Regions from separate parts of the Homo sapiens genome. Here region 2 is linked to region 1. Evidence: fine-mapped expression QTL. Tissue or cell type: whole blood. Region 1 holds a variant in brackets; the other region holds the start of a gene. All regions are shown on one strand. Distances are between the middles of the regions.

The links. PIP is the estimated chance that this variant, and not a neighbour inherited with it, causes the effect.
Region 2: PFN2 starts here. The variant in region 1 is fine-mapped to the expression of PFN2 in whole blood (INTERVAL, PIP 0.98).

The regions. Positions count from the first base shown.
Region 1 is chr3:149,832,439-149,840,160 of GRCh38, forward strand. The region is part of intron 1 of RNF13 (ring finger protein 13); the gene reads left to right. Among named protein-coding and RNA genes, the nearest start is that of RNF13, 23 kb to the left of the region's middle. The variant A/G (reference allele first, on the strand shown) is at 3,996.
Region 2 is chr3:149,967,301-149,975,022 of GRCh38, forward strand. It overlaps PFN2 (profilin 2), which reads right to left and starts at 3,595. Exons shown (of 3, transcript NM_053024.4): 1 at 3,425-3,595; 2 at 1,058-1,250. The coding sequence starts at 3,556. It overlaps LOC646903 (a long non-coding RNA gene), which reads left to right and starts at 3,979. Exons shown (of 1, transcript NR_036538.1): 1 at 3,979-5,942. RefSeq lists silencers at 2,791-3,050, 3,071-3,120, 3,131-3,370, 3,581-3,660, 3,891-3,950 and enhancers at 3,796-4,327, 4,328-4,858.

The sequences.
Region 1 (7,722 bases):
TTTACTGTGATGCTTGGGAAATTTTCAAATTTTTCAGTGACCAGCATTAGACAAGTAACTGTCATTTATCCTCCAAAACCATACAGATAATCATGTGTACCAGCCAGTTTGCTCATTTTCTCAAAAATGAGGCCAAGAGAAAACTCAGCCAAACCAACAATTGGTTTTTAAAAAAAATCTATGAAATTAACAAATCTTTCATTATAGTGACTAAAGAAAACAAGAGAGGAGACTCAACTAAAATCAGAAATGAAAGAGGGGACACAACTACCAATTTTATAGAAATAAAAAGGATTGTAAAAGTACTATAAACAATTTTATGCCAAGAAATTGGATAACCTAGATGAAATGGATGAATACCTGGAAAGACACAACCTCCCAACACTGAATCATGAAAAAATAGAAAGCTTGCACAGACCTATGGGAGATTGAAGCAATAATCAAAAACATTCCAAGAAAGAAAAGCCTGGGATCAGATGGCTTCATTGGTGAATTCTACCAAATATTTAAGGAAGAATCAACATCAATTTTTCTCAAACTCTTCCCAAAAAACTGATAAAGAGGGAACACCTCCTAACTTATTCTAAGGGGCCAAAATTACCCTGGTACCAAAGTCAGACAAGGATACTAAAAAAAGAAAGAAAAGAAAACTACATAACTTATCGTTCTCTCTCTCTCTCTTTTTTTTTTTTTTTTTTTGAGATGGAGCCTCACTCTGTTGCCTAGGCTGGAGTGCAATGGTGTGATCTTGGCTCACTGCAACCTCTGCCTCCCAGGTTTAAGAGATTCTCCTGCCTCAGCCTCCCGAGTAGCTGGGATTACAGGTGCCTGTCACCACACCCAGCTAATTTTTGTATTTTTAGTAGAGGCAGGGTTTCACCATTTTGGCCAGGCAGGCCATTATCTCTTATGACTGCTGATGTAAAAATCCTCAACAAAATGCTAGCAAACTGAATTCAGCAGCACGTTAAAAGCATTATACACATGACCAAGTTGGACTTATTCTTGGAATGCAAGGATGGTTCTACATGTGAAAAGTGTTATAGTCAATGTAATGTACCACATTAAGAGAATAAAAACACATAATCACTTCAATAGATGCAGAAAAAGCATTTCACAGAATTTAACACTCTTTCATGATAAAACACCCAACAAACTGAAAATAGAAGGAGACTACCTCAGAATAAAGGCCATGTGTAAAAAACCGACAACTAATATAATTGGTCATAAAAGACTGAAAGCTTTTCCTCTAAGATCAGGAACAAGACAAGGATTCCTGCCTTTGCCATTTCTATTTATCTTGGCACCAGAAGTCCTAGCCAGAGCAATTAGGCAAGAAAGAGAAATGAAAGGCATCAAAATTAGAAAGGAATAAGTAAGATTACCATTGTAAGCAGATGATATGACCTTACATGTAGGCAATCTAAGATTCCACAAAAGAAAAAATATCTGATAGAACTATTAATAATAAATGAATTCAGCAAAGTTGCAGGATACAAAATCACACACAAAAATCAGTTGCATTCCTATAAAGTAACAGCGAACTATCCAAAAAGGAAATTAAGAAAACAATTCCATTTACAATATCAACAAAAATAAAATAGTAATAAATTAAACCAAGGAGGTGGAAGAATTGTACACTGAAAATTGTAAGACTTTGCTGAAATAAAGAGGACATAAATAAATGAATAGACATTCCATGTTTATGGATTGATAGACTTAATACTGTTAAGATGTCAGTACTACCCAAAGAAATCTATGGATTCAATGTAATATTATCAAAATCGCAATAACCTTCTTGCAGAAATAGGAAAATCTATCCTAAACCATATATGGAATCTCAAGGGACCCCAAATAGCCAAAACAAAGTTGTAGGTCGTATACTTCCTGATTTCAAAACTTAACTACAAAATTCCAGTAATTAAAATAGTGTGGTACTGGTGTAAAGATAGACATATAGAGCAATGGAATAGAATAAAGAGCTCAGGAATAAAGCCTCACATACATGCTCAAATAACTTTTGACAGAAGTCCTCCTATGGTTTGGAAATGGTTTGTCTGGCCCCACCAAGTCTCATATTGATATTTGATCCCCAGTATTGGAGGTAGGGTCTGATGGGAGCTATTTGGATTATGGGGGTAGATCCCTCATGAATGGCTTGATGCCGTTCTCATGGGAATGACTGAAATTTCACTCTTAGTTCTTTTGAGAACTGGTGATTGAAAAGAACTTGGCACTTTCTTCCCTCTCTCTCACTTGCTGCTCTTGCTGTGTGATGGGCTCCCTTTTGCCTTCTGCCATGAATGGAAGCAGCTTGAGGTCCTCACCAGATATAGATGTTGGTACCATCCTTCTTGTACAGCTTACAGAACTGTGGGCCAAATAAACCTCTTTTCTTTATAAATTACCCAGCTTCAGATATTCCTTTATAGCGACACAAATGGACTAAGGTGTCAAGATCATTTGATAGAGAAAGGCATTGTACACAGTCTCTTCTACAAATGGTGTGTTGGGAAAACTGAATATCTGTATGTAAAAGAATGAATTTGACCTTTACCTTATACCATATGCAACAGTTAACTCAAAATTGATCAGAGATCTAAACATAAGAGCTACTATGTAAAACTCTTAGAGGAAAACATAAAGAAAGCTTCACAACATTGGAATTGTCAATAATTTCTTGGGCAGGACACCAAAAGCACAGGCAAGAAAAGAAAAAAATAGATGTTTGACTTCATGAAAATTAAAACTTCTTGTGCATTGAAGGACAGTACCAACAGGGTGAAAAAAATGAGAGAAAATACTTTTCAATCATATATTTTATAAGGAATTGCTGTCTAGAATATATAGAGAATTTAAAAAATTTTTTTATTTCCATAGGTTTTTGGGGAACAGGTGGTATTTGGTTACATGAGTAAGTTCTTTAGTGGTGATTTGTGAGATTTTGGTGCATCCATCACCTGAGCAGTATACACCTTCACCCCCTCCTACCCTTTCCCCTGAGTCCCTAAAGTCCATTGTATCATTCTTATACCGTTGCATTCTCGTAGCTTAGCTCCCACTAACGAGTGAGAACATACGATGTTTGGTTTTCCATTCCTGAGTTACTTCACTAGGAATAATAGTTTCCAGTTCTATCTAGGTTGCTGCAAATGCCATTAATTAATTCATTTTTATGGCTGCGTAGTATTCCATTGTGTGTGTGTGTGTGTGTGTGTGTGTGTGTGTTTGTGTGTGTGTGTGTGTATGTGTGTACCACAATTTCTTTATCCAGTAGTTGATTGATGGGCATTTGGGCTGGTTCCATATTTTTGCAATTGTGAATTGTGTTGTTATAAACGTGTGTGCAAATATCTTTTTTTTATGACTTTTCTCCTGGGTTGGGATTGCTGGATCCCCAGTAGTGGGATTGCTGGATCCCCAGTACTGGGATTGCTGGATTCCCAGTACTGGGATTGCTGGATTCCCAGTACTGGGATTGCTGGATCAAATGGTAGTTCTACTTTTGGTTCTTTAAGGAATCTCCACATTGTTTTCCATAGTGGTTGTACTAGTTTACATTCCTGCCAGCAGTGTAGAAGTGTTCCCTTTCACCACATCCATGCCAACCTCCATTTTTTAAAATTTTTTTGATAATGGCCATTCTTGCAGGAGTAAGGTGGTATTGCATAGTGGTTTTGATTTGCATTTCTCTGATCACTAGTGATGTTGAGCATTTCTTATTTTGTTTGTTGGCTATTTGTGTATCTTCTTTTGAGAATTGCCTATTCATGTCCTTAGCCCACTTTTTGATGGGATTGTTAACTCAGTGGCAAAAAACCAAGCAACCCAATTAAAAAATGAACATAGGAGCTGAATAGACATTTTTCCAAAGAAGACATACAAATGGCCAAAAAGTACATGAAAAGATGCTCAACATCACTAATCATTGGGGAAGTGCAAGTCAAGACCACAATGAGATACCACTTTACATGTATTTTAGTATGGCTATATGT[A/G]TATATATATATTGTATATATATGTCTATCATAAAATAGATTTAAAGTGGTATCTCATTCTGGTCTTGAAGGAAAACAACATAAAATAGCAAATGTTGGCAAGGATGTGAAGAAATAGTAACTGTTTGTGCATTATTTGTGGGAAAGTAAAATGGTGCAGCCACTTTGGAAAATGGTATGGCAGTTCTTTAAAAAAAAAAAATCAAACGTAGAATTACCATATGATCCAGCAATACTTCTGGGTATATGCCACAAATAATTTAAAGCAGGAACTCAGTTATTTTTTTCACAATAGCTAAAAGATCTAAGCAACCCAAGTGTCAATTGAGAGATGAATGGATCAGTAACATGGGGTATGTACATATAATGGAATATTACTCAGCCTGCTAAGGAAGGAAATTTTCACATGTGGTACAACACTTCAAGATATCATGCTAAGTGAAATAAGCTAGTCACAAAAGGACAAATATTGTATGATTCCACTTATATTAGGTAGTTAGAGTAGTTGAATTTATAGAAACAGAAAATAAAATTGTGCTTGCCAATGGCCAGGGGATGGGGCATGGGTAATTAATGTGTACCAGGTTTCAGTTTGGGAAGATGAGAAAATTCTAGGGATGGATTGTGGTAATATTTGCACAACAATGTGAATATAGTTAATGTTACTGAACTGTATACTTTAAAATTTTTTATATGGTAAATTTTATGTCTGTATGCCACATTAAGAAAAGAGGCTGAAGGCCTTCTGAAAAGATCACTGAAGAGTTAAAATAATTTTTCATGCATTTAGTAAACTTTTTATTATATAAATTCTCAAACATATAGAAAAGCAGAGAAATAGTGTAATGAATCTCAATGTAATCTTCACCTAGATTTATAGTGTGTTTTTTTCTGAAGTGCTTTAAATGACAGATATCATGACATTTCTTTCCTAAGTACTTTACTATAATAGATAGCTCCCCAAATAAGGACTTTTTCATACAGCTATTGTATTAGTCCTTTTTCACACTGCTGATAAAGACACCTGAGACTGGGCAATTTTCAAAAGAAAGAGGTTTAATGGACTTACAGTTCCACATCACTGGAGAGGCCTCACAATCATGGCAGAGGGTGAAAGGCACGTCTCACATGGTGGCAGACAAGAGAAGAGAGCTTGTGCAGGGCAACTCTCCTTTATAAATCCATCAGATCTCATGAGACTTATTCATTATCACGAGAATAACATGGGGAAGACCTGCCTCCATGATTGAATTACCTCCTGCCGGGTCCCTCCCACAACACATGGGAATTCAAGATGAGATTTGGGTGAGGACACAGCCAAACCATGTCATTCTGCCCTGGCCCCTCCCAAATCTCATGTCCTCATATTTCAAAACCAATCATGCCTTCCAAAAGTCCCCCAAAGTCTTAATTCATTTCAGCATTAACTCAAAAGTCCACATTCCAATGTCTCATCTGAGACAAGGCAAGTTCCTTCTGCCTATGTGCCTGTAAAATCAAAAGCCAATCAGTCACTTCCTAGATACAATGGGGGTACAGGCATTGTGTAAATACAGCTGTTCCAAGTGGGAGAAATTGGCCAAATCAAAAGGGCTACAGGCCCCATGCAAGTCCAAAATCCAGCGGGGCAGTCAAATCTTAAAGCTCCAAAATGATCTCCTTTGACTCCTTGTCTCACATCCAGGTCACGCTGATGCAAGAGGTAGGTTCCTATGGTCTTGGGCAGCTCCTCCCTGGTGGCTTTACAGTGTACAGCCTTCCTCTTGGCTGCTTTCATGGGCTGGCGTTGAGTGTCTACGGCTTTTCCAGGTGCACGGTGCAAGTTGTTGGTGGATCTACTATTCTGGCGTCTGGTGGACAGTGGTCCTCTTCTCACAGCTCCACCAGGTGGTGCCTCAGTAGGGACTCTGTGTGGGGGCTCCAACCCCATATTTCTCTTCCACACTGCCCTAGCAAAGGTTCTCCATGAGGGCTCTGCCCCTGCAGCAAACTTTTGACTGGGGATCCAGGCATTTCCATACAGATTCTGTAATCCAGGCAGAGGTTCCCAAGCCTCAATTCTTGACTTCTGTGCACCTGCAGGCTCAATACCACGTGGAAACTGCCAAGGCTTGGGGCTTGCATCCTCTGAAGCCAGGGCCCAAACTGTACCTTGGCTCTGTTTAGCCACGGCTGGGATGCAGGGCACCAAGTCCCAAGACTTCACAAAGCAGCAAGGCCCTGGGCCCAGCCCAGCAAGCCATTTTTTCCTCCTAGGCCTCTGGGCCTGTGATGGGAGAGGCTGCCATGACAACCTCTGACATGCCCTGGAGACATTTTCCCTATTTTCTTGGCAATTAACATTTGGCTCCTCGTTACTTAAGCAAATTTCTACAGCTGGCTTGAATGTCTCCTCAGAAAATGGGTTTTTCTTTTCTATTGCATCATCAGGCTGCAAGTTTTCTGAACTTTTATGCTCTGCTTCCCTTAAACATAAGTTCCAATTCCAAACCGTATTTTTGTGAATGAATAAAACTGAATGCTTTTAAGAGTACTCAAATCACCTCTTGAACAGTTTACTGCTTAGAAATTTCTTCCGCCAGATACCCTAAATCATCTCTCTCAAGTTAAAAGTTCCACAAATCTCTAGGGCAGGGACAAAATGCCACCAGTCTGTTTGCTAAAGCATATCAAGAATCACCTTTTCACCAGTTCCCAATAAGTTCCTCATCTCCTTCTGAGACCACTTCAGCCTGAACTTCATTGTCCATATGACTATCAGCATTTTGGTCAAAACCATTCAACAAGTCTTTAGGAAGCTCCACATTTTCCCACATTTTCCTGTCTTCTTCTGAGCCCTCCAAACTGTTCCAACCTCTGCCTGTTATCCAGTTCCAAAGTCACTTCCCTTTTAAACTAAGTTTTCTGGTATCTTAATAGCAGTACCCACTCCACTGGTACCAATTTACTATGTTAGTCCATTTTCATACTGCTATGATGAAATACTCAAGACTGGGTAATTTATAAAGAAAAAGAGGTTTAATGGACTGACAGCTCTACATGGCTGGAGAGGCCTCAGAATCATGGCAGAAGGCAAAGGAGAAGCAAAGGCATGTCTTACATGGCAGCAAGCAAGAGAGCATGTGCAGGAGAACTTCCCTTTTATAAAACCATCAGTTCACATGAGACTTACTCACTCTCATGAGAATAGCATGGGAAAGACCTGCCCCCATGATTCAATTAACCTCCCACGAGGTTTCTCCCACAACACCTGGGAATTCAAGATGTGGTTTGGTTGGGGATGCAGCCAAACCCATACCAGCCATAATACTATCATCATAGCTAAGGATTTTTTTAAAGGATATCTAATATCTGGGCCATATTTCCGTTGTCTCCATTATTCCGAAAATGTATTTTTATTGTTGGTTTAATGGAACTGTATGTTGCATTTGTCTTTACTGTTTCTCATCTCTTTTGATGTGTAACAATTTCATGCCATTTCCTCATTCTGTCCTCTTGTACTGTCTCTGTTTATTGTGTTGAATTTTGTAGAAATTGGGGCATTACCCTCAAGCAAGACACCCATCTTGTGGTATCTTATTTATTTTTTTTCATTCCAGAAAATTCTTGTAAACTTGAAGTGAGAGCTAAAGGCTTGTTAGAACTGGTTTAAAACAGTTTCGCAAGAATACATCTTAAGTGTTATAATACAGACTGAACAGAAAGTAAAATTAGAATTTGACAGTTG
Region 2 (7,722 bases), 130 kb after region 1:
CGTATAAAATATTCTGGTTTTTTGTCTTGTGTTTGACGCTTCTTTTCAGCGTATAGTGCAGCTAAGGTTTAAAGAGATTTGTCACTATTTCAAAGTCATCTAATTTTCTTATAAATCCTTATAAACATCAACTCACACCAGAATACGAGTAACTTTTAGGATAATCACAGGGAGCTGGTAGAGCCATAGCATTAATTATAACTCACAGCAGCTTCAACTCCCCTCACATGGTAGAGCTGTTATTAAAATTAGATGTGCCAAGTCAGCTATGTGAGGCTACAGAAGCACTCTCTATTTACAAAATATTCGTATGCGTTAACACATTAAAATGTATTTGTAAATCAATTAGATGTCATAATAAAACTCAATTTCAAAAGTTTATTTTGAAAAAGTAGGGAGACTTCTTTAGTGCAATTAAGAGTTTCTATAATGCTGACAACAGTCTGGAGACACCTGAATTTCTGGACCAAGTATACAAACTAAATGTAATTTCCTACTTTTCAAATCTAAGTCTCAGACACAATCTTTGAAAATATTTCAGTGAATGGACAACTTACTCCAAAATCCTCATCTAATTATCTTTTCCCCAGCAAAGTTCCTAACTGAAAAATGAACGGATGTTAATTTTTCCTTCTTTATGCTGAGTAGTGAAATGGTTAGAATACAAGCAAGAAAAAAAAGAAAAGAGATCCAAAGGTCAAACACACACCAAAAGGGACTAAAATAACCAAGTGATTCGAACAATTTAACAATCTGAAACACCACAGGATTATGATTTGACATGTCAAGCAGTTTAAGAGACTTTTAAGTTTAATAAAGCTGAAAGTGAGTTCATACGAATATTCTATCGTAGAAACAAAATCAGGATCTAAGAGGCCAGGTCATAGATGCTGTAGAGTAGGTAAAACTAAAGCAGTGCTTCTCCATAGTGCTGGGCAGTTCACAAAAACCACCTTAATAGCCATTATGGACTAACTTTTATTCAAAATGTTAAAAGAAACTGCTTAATAAGTTGTAATGTGGCATGCAACTTTAACCAAAAGAATGCCTTACTCACCTCTACCAGCTCTGCCGACAGCCACATTGTATGTTGGCTCCCCACCTTGACTCTTTGTCCGGATGTCCATTGTGCAGTCACCATCGACGTATAGACTATCTCTGATCACTGAGCATTTCTTCGCGCCAAGAGTCAAACCGTTGGTAAAGAAACCTTCCCGGTCTTTTCCTACAATCATATCTATTTCTATTGGCTGCCCCCCACCAAAAAGAAAAAAAAAAAACACACACACATTAAGTTGTAGTTAACTCCTTTTAGGGCTTGATGTAACAGGAAGGGCTGTAGCTAGGCTTATGCTACCACTGCCAGATAGCCACATTTCACTAATGTAAAACCAAGATTCAGTCTTTTCTAAATAATTATTTAATCCTATATAATCACATATTTTACATGAGTTGATTTGACTTCAGTTAATGATGTCGTCTCTTAACCAAGACCAGTCTATACAAAGAAACTGTAAAGAGTTGACAGTTGACACTAGACAAAGTGCAAACTTAAAGAGTTATTTATAAACTGTATTAAGTCAGCTGGTGCCTGAAAGTGTTCACGTAATGGTAAAAATTCAGCTATCAACTCTGAACAAAGCTGGTCTATCATATTCAGTCCCATTACAGTAAATCATGTTTCATCAAATTTAAAGTTGCTTCAAAGTCTCCCAAAATAAAGCCTGTTCTTTGATGTGTTCACTTCTCTGCTTAGAGTAACTAGAAATATACGTGATGAGATGGACTTCAACCCCTGGACATCAGTGCTTTTCCAAATTCATATTTCCCTCCTATTTTTCTAGCCACGACTCCCGTTTCTTTCCAACTTCCCTTCCCCTCCCATCTCAGTAATCAGTTTTCTTTCTGGGCAAACGCAAAGTGGATTCTGTCTACAGCACTGCGGTAGGCAATAGTAAAACAGAAAAAATGGAGGGAGATTGGGAAAGAAACTGAGGTAGCCACCAGAACCGGAAAGGAGAAAACGTGCATTCTAACATTCCATGAATAAGAAGGAAGGCGTCGCCCCCATCAGAACTGCAGAGTCATAGCAGGCCCCAGCCATTTCCAAGCACACTCCCGCAATCTTCCTAGTCAGACAGCGGGAACTCACACACAAAGACAAGAGGACTGCAGGAAAAAAGTTGATGACCAGATGCCAATTCCCTACAAGAATTGTAGTCCACTGCGGGTATACGAGACCTTAAAGTACTACTATCAAGGACTGAGTTCTAAAGTTAGACTTTAAACCATGTTAAGTGGTAAAAGAATAATTAGCACCCTTAATAGGGGACCTGAATTTTGGTGCTTAATGGAAAGGGAGCGTGGTGCTAAGAAATAAAGAGAATGGTCTCGTATTTAGTACAATTATCATAATTTTAGAAACAGCCTTGGGCAGAAACAGGCAAAACAATAAGCTGGAGGTTTTGTGGCAAATATTCTCCAAACATATTGCAACCAACTCAAAACCATCAAGTCTCAAGAAAATCAGGCAATGTGAAGCATAAAACTGCATTAGTTCCTTTACTGCCACCACTAAAGAGGGAGGGACTTAGAGAAGTGAAGTGTGCTCCTGGTCTTCGCAGATAATTGAAAGCCCCCGAAAAGCACCCCTTTTTTGAGCTATGTTGCATAACTGGGGATAACCGTATATCGATGAATCTCCATATGAGAAGAGAAATCAATGGCAGTTCGCCATCTTGGAGAATTTAAAAAAAAAAAAAAAACAACCTATAGAGCTAGAGCTGAAGTCGAGATTCACGAATCCACCTACGCGGTCGGCGTACATCTCTCGCAAGCCCCAGAGGCCTGGACATCGGTAAACCTACGCAAAGTCGCTTCGAGAATCCCGGGGGCCGGGCCGGGGCCGCCGCCTCCCACAGCCGGAGGCGCGGGAGGCGCGCTGTCCGCGGAGCAAGAGCCGGCCAGAGAGCCTAGGGACCTCCACCCGGGGCCCGCGCGCCCCAGCCCGGATCCCCGACCCCCGCTTCCACCCCAGAACGTGCATAGCAAACCTCAGGGCTTCAAGAGAACCTAGGGGAACCGCACTAGGAGGAAAAAAGGAACCCCTCCCCTTGCCCTGGCCGGTGCGTGCCCCCTCCCCCAACCCGGGCACCTGGACCGACGCTGGGAACGCCGGGGGCGCCCGGCCAGGGCCAGCAAGGAGTCCGGCCGCCGCCCCCAGCCTGTCAGCGCAGCCCCGGGTGAGGGGGCGTCCCCGGGCCTCGGCCTCCCCGCCCGCCCGGCAGCCGCATCCTCGGCGCCCGCTGCCTAGCACACCTGCGGGCTCGGCCCTCAGTGTTCCAGCCCCGCGCTGCGGTGCCCCCGCGGCCGGCCACCCCGCTCCGGTGCAGGGACCAGGGTACCGGCCGCCACTGGTCCTCACCGTAATGCTCTGAAAGACGCCCCCGGCCGTGGCTGCCCAGACGTATTTGGCGTCGCAGTAGCCGACAATGGCGGCCTCCTGGCAGCAGCCATCGCACATCAGGTTATCCACGTAGCTCTGCCAACCGGCCATCTTCGAGCCCTTCGCACTGCAGCGCGGACGGCGAGGAGCAGCAGGCGCAGCGGCGGCGGCGGCGGTAGCGGGCGGCGGCGGCGCGGGGGGAGGCGGGGCGGGGGCGGGGAGGAGGCGGCTCTGCGCAGGCACCGACCGCCCCCCTCCCCGAGGAGCTGCGGCGGGAGGACGCGGGTTCAGCGATGAGGGACGAACCTCAGAGCGCGCTCGGCCGCCCGGCCGCCCGCAGCCGCGGGGCTGACAAACCAGCGGCGGGAGGCTGCGAAGCGGCTGTGCCTGTGGCGGCTGCTCCTTACCGCAGCGCCCTCCGTTTTCCGCGGACACGGCTGGGCGTGCGCGCGCGCGTGCGTGCGATCCTTCCGCGGCGCCCGGGCACGGAGGGTCCCGGGAAGGGCGGGGGGAGACTGAGGCGGGGGCGCGGAGGGATACCGCCCCGGGACAATCACGGCCGCCACGTGCGGGAGGCGCCGGCCGGGAGCGGTGGCGGGCCGAGCTTCGGACCTCGGGCCGGCGGAGAGGGTGGACCCCGCGTCGCTCTCGGCACCCCAGGAACAGCGGCGGCACGGACGCCTTGGAGCCCCGCGGCCGGGCCGCGATGTGCTTTTCTCCTGTGTTCGCTGCCCGGGATGCGGAATCTTGAGCCTCGGTGTCGGGTTACAGAGTTGTCCTGGTGACGGGATGCGGAGCGTTTCCTCCTTTTTGTTGTGGGGGCGGCTGGTGGCAGGGGCAGCTGGTGGCAGGGTTGCCCACGCTAATCTCCGAGTCTCTAAGGGCACCGTCTTTCCTGGATCCCTCTTGCGCCTCGTCCATAAAGGCAGACCCGCGGGCGCGCGCCGGCAACCTGAAATCAGAGCAGGCGTCCGTGGCGCTCAGGAACCTTGCTGAGCTTCGCCGATCTTTCATTGTTGCTTCATTTGGGTACCAAGGGCCTCTCATTCTGTGGATTCTTTGCCTGGAGGAGCCCCCTTAATGTTGCTAATCACGTGTGGTTAAATTGCTCGTAAATTCCGAACAAAACAAATAGCGACCTGTGTTACACTGTTTCTTGGTAACTGGGAAAGTTACTGGTGGCTTGAAGTATACGCAGAAAATACAAAGATTAAAAACTAGGGAAGAGTTCACTGAATGAACACCGTAACATTTCTGCTCTGCAGGGTAAAATAATTTCGGGACCCAGGTCTGGGAAAGATTTGTATTAACAAGGTAAACGGTGGGTAGAGTGCCTGAGAAGCTATTCGTATCGTCTTTGGTAGCCTCTGGGCACTAGGACTAGACATGGAATTAGGGGTCCCCCAACAATGACTTCAATTTTAGGTTAATAGAAACCATCTGCCACTTAAGGGAAAGAAAGCACCAAAATGTAGATAAGTTGATGTTCACCCTTAAAGTTATCGTGTGAGGTCATGATTTGTAGGAGGATTAAGGAATGTATCTCTGGAAAGGGCAAGAACGTTGCTTTTAAAAGTCTAATTGGTTCTGAAGTTTTATATTTTTTCTGCTGATTGCTTTAAAATGTTCAGCTACTAGAGAGAAAAAAAGTACAGTAAAAGAAACCCCCAAGTCAGAGACCTATCAGACTGAGAATATGTATTTTCTCATGTTCTAAAGATACAGAATACCTGTGTGGTGTAAAATGTGAACCAAAAATTGTTTCATTTTTGTAAGTGTGCCTCCCACCTGATTTAATTACACTTAATTGTTCTTGTTTATGACTCTGCCTTTTATGGTGATGTTGATCATTTTAGTCCTTCGATCATAGCACTGTATCATCTTAAAAGTTAATAATAGATTACTTGTAACACAGGCTCACTATGTGAGAATTCATCAAGCTGTATGTACATTTATTGTGCTCTTCATTGTATGTATAATTCAATAAATTGAAACAGTAAACGAAAAGGTAATTATAGAAAAAATACAGTGATAACTTGAAGTATGTTGAATTTTTATTAATTTACTCTGAAGGTTTTAAGATATAATTTCTAGACGTTACTATCTTATTGTTATAGCACAGAGTTGGAAATAACTACATTCTTTTCCTATTCTTTTATTGTTGGCTTTAAACAGTGAAAGAATTTGACCAACAATATTTTCTAATTCAAATCTCAAAAGATTCTAAAACACATTTCTTGGGTAAAATATTCACAAAAATTTAGAATTCTTGTCATTCTTCTATATTTTTCAAAATATAATTCATTTTAAATTACTGCTTACTTTTCCAACATGATGTTATTTTTCTAGAATTGCAAACAGTAAAATTTAAACAACTATGAAAAAAATTCTGTATAATAGATTAAATTTTACAGTTTCAATTTTTAGGTTATATATTCAAAGAGAGTCCATGTGCTGTCTTGGTTTTCAGTACTGTAATAAAGTAACCTGTGCTTTTTTGTTTGTTTGTTTATTGAGATGAGACTCCGTCACCAGGGCTGGAGTGCAGTGGCATGATCTCGGCTCACTGCAACCTCCGCTTCCTGGGTTCAAGCGATTCTCCTGCCTCAGCCTCCCAAAAGTAGCTGGGATTACAGACACCCGCCACTACGCCCAGCTAATTTTTTGTATTTTTTGTAGAGACGGGGTTTCACCATGTTGGCCAGGCTGGTCTCAAACTCCTGACCTCGTTATTCGCCTGCCTCGGCCTCCCAAAGTGCTGGGATTACAGGCATGAGCCACCATGCCCGGCCACCTGTGCTTGTTTTCTTTAGAACCAGCTTCCTTGCATGCTGCTTTATTTTCCATTTGTGTACAGTGATCCCTTCCTATTTCATCTAAGTGTTGCTTATACGTTTCAGAAAGTATAAATAGAGGTGGAATACTGAGCTTTAGTAATAACAATATTGGTTCACTTAAGTCCAAAGGAGTATCAGTGTGAGAAAAAGAATTGCCAATTTGTATCTTCCTCTACTTTTCTGAGAGTAAGTAATCCCTAGGATAATTGTAATATCTGGGCAGAAGTTTAGAAAAGTTGTGGCTGTGTTGTTGATACAAATAGCCAGAATAATGTAGCCATTAACAATCAGTAGCATATTTAAGTTTGGAGTGCATTATTATGCATTCTTTCCAGAATTATTTTATTCTTATTGAGTAAAGCAGAAACTGTGTAGTAAGCCACGTTCTTTAATGTGTAAGTCAAGTGGTGTCTGAACCACTTGAGTCCATGTAAAAATCATTTGAAATTTTAGCAAAACACAAACAAGAAATTATCTTTAAAATGTACACAACCTGATAATCATTGGGAGCAGGATCTAAAACTATACACAGTAATTACCCCCAAATTTAGTAAAACCATAATTAACCATCAGTTATTTAAAAATTTCACCGCATAGTTCATTTCTGAAAAAAGTATATGAATTATAAAATCAATATCACAGCAATAAAGTTTAGAAAATGGAGAAAAATCCTTAATCCCACAAGCTAATACAAATATCTTTTGAATGTATTCACTATGTATGATTTTTACAGTAAAGAACAAGGAGAACTTATAATTCTGCATTTGGCCATTTTACCCTGAAATTCTATGAATTTTTGCTTTTTATATTTTGAGGCTATTAGGAAAATGGAAATTTAAATTGTTATATTTTTCCTTTCTGATGAATTTATTCTTTATTATTTAGTAGTTGCCCTCTTGATCACCAATACTGCTTTTTGTCTTAAAATTTTTGTCAAATATTAAGGTAACATCCCAGCTCTCTTTTTATTGGTGTTTACCTTATATATCTTTTCGCTCCCCACCTCTCTTTCAACCTTTCTCTGTCCTTTTTATTTTGTGTCTCATAAACTTCACGCAGCTGGATTTTGTTTTTTTATCCAATATGGCAGTATAACCTTTAATTGGCAAGTTTATTCCATTTACATTCATTGTAATTATTGACATACATTTGGACTTGTTTGAACTAATTTTATTAGTCTCTTTTTTTTTCTATGCTTTTTTCTTCCTTGCCTTTAAAAAAAATGTCGGGCATGTGTGTTTTATTCTTTTTTTTTTTTCAAATTTATGCTACCAATTTTTCTTAGTGTTACCCTTAAATTTTTGCCTTGCATATTTAATACAATAAAGTTTTAAGTTAAATATCTTAAACACTACCCCTAGACAATCCAAAAACCTTAGAATGTTTTAAGTCTGGACACCTCTCTCCAGACTCTTACACAGATGTTTATGTATGTGTGTA